2 linked regions of the Homo sapiens genome follow. The protein of the gene in region 1 purifies or fractionates together with the protein of each later gene. This does not show direct contact. Each region holds a gene or a part of one and is shown in the gene's direction. Other genes may lie near its edges.

What was found. Proteins that work in one complex are often made in the same cells at the same time.
Region 2: the proteins of TBC1D16 (region 1) and CTSC purify together in Homo sapiens (affinity purification with mass spectrometry; one large-scale study listed by BioGRID and IntAct). This does not show direct contact.

What each region holds. Positions count from the first base shown.
Region 1 is NC_000017.11:79,948,873-79,952,372, reverse strand, and holds part of TBC1D16 (TBC1 domain family member 16), read left to right. Parts: intron 1-775; coding exon 776-923; intron 924-1,519; exon of another isoform or gene 1,520-1,611; coding exon of another isoform or gene 1,612-1,617; intron 1,618-1,778; coding exon of another isoform or gene 1,779-1,794; coding exon 1,795-1,962; intron 1,963-2,507; coding exon 2,508-2,656; intron 2,657-3,366; coding exon 3,367-3,500. UniProt on the Homo sapiens protein: May act as a GTPase-activating protein for Rab family protein(s).
Region 2 is NC_000011.10:88,334,937-88,339,189, reverse strand, and holds the start of CTSC (dipeptidyl peptidase 1 isoform a preproprotein), read left to right. Parts: upstream 1-1,453; 5' UTR 1,454-1,517; coding exon 1,518-1,689; intron 1,690-4,107; coding exon 4,108-4,253. UniProt on the Homo sapiens protein: Thiol protease. Has dipeptidylpeptidase activity. Active against a broad range of dipeptide substrates composed of both polar and hydrophobic amino acids. Proline cannot occupy the P1 position and arginine cannot occupy the P2 position of the substrate.

The sequences.
Region 1 (3,500 bases):
CCAGGGCAGAGGGTAGCAGCTGCCGGCGGCTCTGATCGCCGGGGGATGCTCTGGAGCTCGGCCACCTGTGCGGGACGGGCCGCAGCTTTCCGGATGGAGGCTCCCTTCCTTTCGTGATGGGTGGGCGATGCCTAGTTTCCTGCAGTCATTCCCCACACCAGATCCTCCTCCTTATAGTCAGGGCTGCCCAGCCGCAGACATCACCAATGAGAGGCCCGGGCTTAGAAGAAGCCGGCGTGTCCAGAAGCTGGGGGGGTTCCCAGACCCAGAGCCACATTCCAGCCTTTCATCTAAGGGCAGCCGGGGCTGGGCTGACAGCACTGACGGATGTTTACTGAGTTTCCCTGGAGGGTTCTCCCAGAGTTCCACCCACACGCAACGAAGGAGGTCTGTTCCCAGGAGGTTCTCTTAGCACATGGCCTGCCAGGGCTCAGAACTGGATTCCAGGGCACTCAGCGTTGGGACCCAGGTCTCCCGGACTGCAGGGACCATGTTGCCGGGCAGGGGGTGGTGGGGAGAAGGCCACTCTGGCAGGTCTCCAGAGAGGAGCTCCAGGGCCCCCCAGGAAGGAGCAGTTTTGCCATCTTCGGCAAAGGGGGTGGTGGTTTTTGTTCGGTGTAGTTCTGTCCCCTCCCGCTAGCAGCCAACTCCACTGGGACTCACTGTTTCCTGCTTCTGAGGTTGGCGACAGTGGCCTCTGATTATACTTGGAAATAAAACCCCCGTGTTTACATATTCATCGGGCTTCCCTCTCCCCCTTCCAATGGCCCTTCAGCGACGAGGCCTGCACCAGCGGCCAGCTGGTCGTTGCCAGCCGAGAGAGCCAGTACAAGGTTTTCCACTTCCACCACGGCGGCCTGGACAAGCTGTCTGACGTGTTCCAGCAGTGGAAATACTGCACCGAGATGCAGCTCAAAGACCAGGTAGCCCAGCAGACGGCCCCAGAATGCCCAGCGGTTGACACTCCCCACCCCCCACGGGCCCCATCTCCCTCCTGGGTCCTGTGTCTGGGGTCCCCGGGCCCCGGGGGCTTACGGGGTGTGACCCACGGTAGTTTTTGGCCGTCAGAGCAGCAACTTTGGGTTTGAAACCTTTGCCCAGGGCTTTCGGTAAAGTCAGTGCCCTGCACTTGAAAAATCATGTTTTGACAAGACTTCCTGCCATATTTTGCTCAATCTACGTACAAATGTAATAAGAGCTCTTTAATTATCTGTTTAAGGTACTGTATGTGCTTATTAGAAATGGGGCCGATTTTAAAATTCCCTTCCTTCCCGCAGAGCCTCCTGCTGGCTTCCCTTATTACAGTAGCATGGCTTTTTTTCCCCCTACATTGAACAACCTTTGATTTTTGAATTAAATGTCAGCTGCAGTTTTGCCCTGGATTCGTGACTGCTCGCGGAGGCAATCTGACAGGCTGGCTCCCTGCTCGCAGAACAGCGATCCCTTTGTATGTGGCCAATCACATGTAATTCATTGCAGGCCCTCCCGGCAGAGGGAAGTTAGGCCGAACGAGGCATTCATTCCGTTTTTGCGGCTGGGGTTGGAGAGAGTGGGGGGCGGCGGCACAGTGGGCCGGGGAGGAGAGAGCCGCAGAGGGAAACCGATTTTAAGATGAAGGTATTTTCATTTTAATTGCGCCTAATTACACTCGCCATTTAGGGGTTTGTATGCAGGGGACGGCCCTTGCCCTCCTTTCAGAAGAGAGAGAGGCTTTTATTCCTGGGAAAAGCACTGCTGGCCTCTGAAGCCGCGCGGCTGAGATCCTGACCTTTGCCCAGTTTTCCTCCCGTCCAGCAGGTCGCCCCCGATAAGACATGCATGCAGTTCTCCATCCGCCGCCCCAAGCTGCCGTCCTCCGAGACGCACCCCGAGGAGAGCATGTACAAGAGGCTCGGCGTCTCCGCCTGGCTCAACCACCTGAATGAGCTGGGCCAGGTGGAGGAGGAGTACAAGCTGCGGAAGGTGAGGTCCGGGTCCGCCCAGCTGGCCCCGCGGAGAGCCGGCCGGGAACCGGGAACGAGCGAGAGGGAAGGAGGGCCGGGGCCTGGCCGCCCGCCCGCACCCACGGGCCACCTCCTCGTGAGGGCCCCGTTTTCTTGTGTGAGGCTCTCTGTGAACACACCGATAAAGCAATCAAAGCTGCTGCGTTGAAAAAAAAAAACAAAACACAACACCTCCCTCGAGGGTTTGGGGGGATACCGTGTCAGCCTGCATAGAAGGGTTTGCAGTGAAATGCAGCATTTCCAAAACCAGGGATTAGGCCATGACGTGAGAACGACACGTTAATCTGAGCGCCACCCCAGGGGGGGCATTGACATTGAAATGAGCCGGGTTTGTGTCCTGTATGGGAATTGAAGGCCACTGCTTTCCCCTTGTAAATATGTGCAAATTGCAGAGATCTGAATCAAGGCGCACCAAAAACCACCAAAACACACATCTCTGGGGATTTGGGGGTTCTTTGAGCTGCCCCATTTTATCCCCTCCCCAACTTTTGCCGCTTCCTCCAGGCCATTTTCTTTGGCGGTATTGATGTGTCAATCCGCGGGGAGGTCTGGCCCTTCCTGCTGCGCTATTACAGCCACGAGTCCACGTCGGAGGAGCGGGAGGCGCTGCGGCTGCAGAAGCGAAAGGAGTACTCTGAGATCCAGCAGAAAAGGTAACCGCCGGGGCCAGCCCGGCCCACCCCGCCGAGCCGCGGAGGAAAATGTCATTTGAAAAGGCAATTTGAGGTGCAATTCAGCATTGATAATATGTTTCGTGACCCATAGTTTCTTTCAAAAATGGGTCTCCCAGGAACGTGAGTGATAGGGTGGGATAAGTGCAGTCATTAAACCAAGCACTCGGGCCTCGGAGCTGCGGGGCTCGTTAGCTCACATGTCAAGGTTTTAGAATTCTCGTTCAACAGACTTAACTAGGCGCTGACGTCCCACAGCTGAAGGCTGGGGCTGGGAGCAGGGCCTGGAGGGGTGAAGGCATCCGGAGACTGTGTCCCACTTGGGATCTGCTAACCCGGGACTGGGCTCAGCTCTCTCTCCAGGAGGCTGGGACTGGGTGAAGCCCCTGGGCTGTGCTCAGCTCCCCTCCAGAACGCTGGGCCAGGGCCAAGGCCTCATTACCCACTGGGCTGCAACTTGCTCTCCTTCCTGGGACGCTGGAGACTGTGAGGCTGAGTTAATATCAAGGAGAGCCTTGGATACACGCCACCCATCCGCCGCATCCGGGGAGGGTCTGCAGCCGGCAGCAGCCGCCCAGCTCCCGTCCAGGGAACGGGGGTTGGGAGGAAGGGTGGCTTCCTGCAGTGTGTGCGCCACACGATGCCTCTGGGTGCCACCCGCTGACCCCGGCTGGGTGCTCGGCTCCACACAGGCTCTCCATGACTCCCGAGGAGCACAGAGCGTTCTGGCGTAATGTGCAGTTCACTGTGGACAAAGACGTGGTCCGGACAGATCGGAACAACCAGTTCTTCCGGGGGGAAGACAATCCCAATGTGGAGAGCATGA
Region 2 (4,253 bases), on another chromosome or scaffold:
TTATACAATGTCAGCTTTCAATTCTAAGAAGGTATATAAAACCTAAAAGCAAGGTGTTCCCCAACCCCCCGCCACCAACCCCGCCCCAGGCTTTGGAAATTTGTGCCCCCATTGAAGAGTATTTTCACCTCTGAACTTTCAAGGACAACTCCTTTTGCCTCATTGAAACTGGCTTTCAAGCTTGGCAACCAAGATAAGAATATTAAGTACACTTATTTTAACACTCAAGGACACTTTCTGAATAAACCAGAATCTAGGGAGATATAAGTGAATAATTTGGACCTGCTCTCTTTGAATGTTTATAATCTGGTGGAAAAAAAATGGACATATGAATATTGATTTGTGACCAGTGCAAAGGGGGCAAAAATTCATATCCCAAAGAAAACGGGGACACATCAGGTCTGTCTTGTTCATCACTGTGTCCACAGGGCCTGACACCTAGTAGGCTCAGTGGGAGAAAGGAGCCCCAATTACCAACAAAAGCCAGGAAAGAACGGGAGGCTCTTACGGAAAAGGGTGATACTTAAACTGAGCAAGGAGGCACCTGGAAATAGTGCCACCTAATAATTTTTGGCGATCAGACTGACACACTAGAACGGTTCATAAGACCAGCCTTCTCCCATTGGCTAGCTTCCTTCCTCACCCTTCTCACCCTGGGCAAGCCGCTTCCTCTCTCTGGGCCTCTTGCTTTTCCTCTGTAACATAAAAGGGGTTGAGCAATATCATCTCTGAGAGCGCCATGTGTGTGCGTGCCAGAGGGAAAACCCCCACAACGCTAATACATCAAAACTGCAGGTTTGCACAAAAACTGAATTCTGCTGAATGCAAACAGGCAAACAGCATTTACCAGGAAACAAAACAAAATCAAGCACATAAAAAAGTAGGAAGAGTTGGAAAACGGAAGGAAGATAAGTTCTCAAACAGCTGGAATAGTTGATGTTAGCTAGCGAAGTTTTTCAGAGGAAAAAACAAGAAGTTGGTTATGAGGCAAGTGGACCTGAGAAAAAAGACTAAAGGGGAAGAATAGCAAGTAAAACAGAACTCCACTTGCTAGATCTCTCCCTCTGTCGCGCTCTTTCACCTGACCCACTCCCTTATTCCCCCCACACCCTTTCCTTCTCTCCCTACGTTACCGCACAGGAACGAAGTCTGGGTCATGTGCGGACCGCTTGTGGCTCTTAAATCCTCTTTTTGTCACCCTGGCCGTGCAAAATTTTGAAACGTCCCTCGGCAAAAAAAATAAAAATAAAAAAAAAAAATCTGTCCCTGGCCTCTTCCCTAGTTCTGGGTCCAGTTGCAGCCAAGTGAGGGGCAGCGCGCGCTCCCAAGTCCCCGTTTCAGAGACGCGCACGCGCCTGGCGCCCAACCCCCAATCCCCTGCTGCTCAGTGACCCCGCCCACGGGTTTCCGGGCCGGCGTAGCTATTTCAAGGCGCGCGCCTCGTGGTGGACTCACCGCTAGCCCGCAGCGCTCGGCTTCCTGGTAATTCTTCACCTCTTTTCTCAGCTCCCTGCAGCATGGGTGCTGGGCCCTCCTTGCTGCTCGCCGCCCTCCTGCTGCTTCTCTCCGGCGACGGCGCCGTGCGCTGCGACACACCTGCCAACTGCACCTATCTTGACCTGCTGGGCACCTGGGTCTTCCAGGTGGGCTCCAGCGGTTCCCAGCGCGATGTCAACTGCTCGGTTATGGGTAAGCCGCCGGCTCGGCAGTCCTCCGGGTCGTCCTTTCTGCCCTTGAGCCCCTAACGCAGCGCCACGCCAACTACCGCTTCCCCCCAGGCAGACGCTTGTGGGTGGCCAGAGCATCTTGACTGGATTCGGGGACCCTTGGGGACCTTCTTCCCCGCCAGGCTCGCGAAGTTAAAGTTCATCTGCTGAGAACTTCTAACTCCACACTTTCTTGGTTATCTTGGGGACTCAACACTTTGATCAAGAACTTTTTTATTCCTCCCGCTTAATTTTGTTTGCTTTGAGAGAGACTTGGGAACTGCAATCGTTTGGTTCTCCAGTCCGATCTGGTAGCGTTATTTTTAAAATTTATTTTTATTTTTTATTACTATTTTACTAGTGAAGATAGATGAGCTCAGAGACTCTCGAGGATATAGCATGAAGTTTTCTCTTTTTGTTAGATGGTGGGAAAGGGACTTTCTGCCCAGCGATTTTGGTTTGAGCGGGTGTTGATGAGTACTAGAAAACGGCTAGTACCACTCTGCATTGTTTCATGCATTGCAAGGAGGTAAAAATTTTTTAAAAAATTAATAACAAAGAAAACTTAACTCTGAACCTAGTAATTAGAAATGCCCAGAGTCTGCACAATGTTTGGCTCATGGAAGGCTCTCAATAAATACCTAGTGTTTGAACATACTGGAGATATTCCATATGCCTTCAGATAACATGGTTACCCCTAGAACAAAGAACCTAGTGAAGGGGGTGGGGTGGAAAAAAGACAATCACTAGTTAGAAGAGTCACACTGTGGTCTACCCAAACCCTCTTACAGCCTGTGACTTCTGCAGAGTCAGTAAAAAATCAGCTATAATTTTCTTGTCAACAGAACAAAGATTAAGTCATTTGTTACTAAAGAAATACCTTTTTAACTGACTGTATAGCATTTCATAATCCTGAACATTGTAACTTTTTTTTTTTTTTTTTTGAGAATGGAGTCTTGCTCTGTCACCCAGGCTGTAGTTCAGTGGCGGGATCTCGGCTCACTGCAACCTCCGCCTCCCGGGTTTAAGCGATTCTCCTGCCTCAGTCTCCCGAGTAGCTAGGATTACGGGCACATGCCACCACGCCCGGCTAATATTTTGTATTTTTAGTAGAGACGGGTTTCACTGTGTTAGCCAGGATGGTCTCCATCTCCTGACCTCGTGATCCGCCCGCCTCGGCCTCCCAAAGTACTGGGATTACAGGCGGGAGTCACCACGCCTGGCCTTTTTTTTTTTTTTTTTTTTAAATTTGAGTTTGAAGGTTGGGGCAGAAAGAGATCAGGATTTGCACTGCCCTGTCACATGCAATCTCCCATGTCAGAGCATTACTCTCAAACATGGAAAAACTTTAAAATACACAACTCTCCAGATGGACACAGCTGAATCATTTTCAGGAAGGCTCTGCCTATAAAATTACCTTTGGCCTTAATTCAGTAATTAAAGGCACCCACAGGTCTGAGCCCTCATCTATGAAGGTTAAACGTATCATTCCTATCAGCACTAATTGGTTTTATAGGATACAGACCTCTAGTTTGCTGAATAAACTTTGGAAGGATTCAGATTATGAGGTTCTAAACTGTAGAGCCTTTGAGGAGAAAGGTACCCCATTTCTTCTCCGAATAGATCATTTTGTGTCTTCTCCTGGGCTTAGCACATTGTCTTCCTTAGGATCTGATAGTCTGTTTATTTATCTTTTTGTTGTCATACCTTTTATTCTTGCATTTCCCACTTTTGACTAGCATTTTGCCTTTTCTCCGTTTCTGGAAGCCTGTAATTTTCAACATTCCCCATTTCTCCTTTTGTTCAGTGGAAAAATTTCTTCAGTGTTGGGATGCTCTGGAAAGGTACTGTAGTTTTGGGGGTCTCCCTGCCTGCTGGGCTGCATAGCATATCTCTCTTTTTTGAGACAAGGTCTCACTGTGTTGCCCAGGTTGGAATGCAGTTGTGCAATCATAGCTCACTGCAGCCTCCAACTCCTGGGCTCAAGCAATCCTTCCACCTCAGCTTCAGCCGCTCAAATAGCTGGGACTACAGGCAATGCACCACCATAACCAGCGAATTTTTAAAAATTATTTTTGTAGAGACAGGGTCTCACTATGTTGCCCAAACTAGTCTTGAAGTTCTGACCTCAGCCCCGCAAAGTGCTAGGATTACAGGCGTGAGCCACTGCTTCTGCTTGCATTATCTCAAATTTTTAGAGCCTAACTTCACAGTCTTGCCTCGGAGCAGGAACTGTTTGAGGCAACAAGATGGAGCCTCTGGTTTCTTCACTAGGCAGACTGTGCTCAAACTGGGTAGCATGAAAGGAAAGCAGCACAATTAAAATTGAAATTGGGGGATTCTTTCCCCTATTGAAATCCAAATAATTTTCCTTTATTGTGCTTTTTTTTTTTTTCTTTAGGACCACAAGAAAAAAAAGTAGTGGTGTACCTTCAGAAGCTGGATACAGCATATGATGACCTTGGCAATTCTGGCCATTTCACCATCATTTACAACCAAGGCTTTGAGATTGTGTTGAATGACTACAAGTGGTTTGCCTTTTTTAAG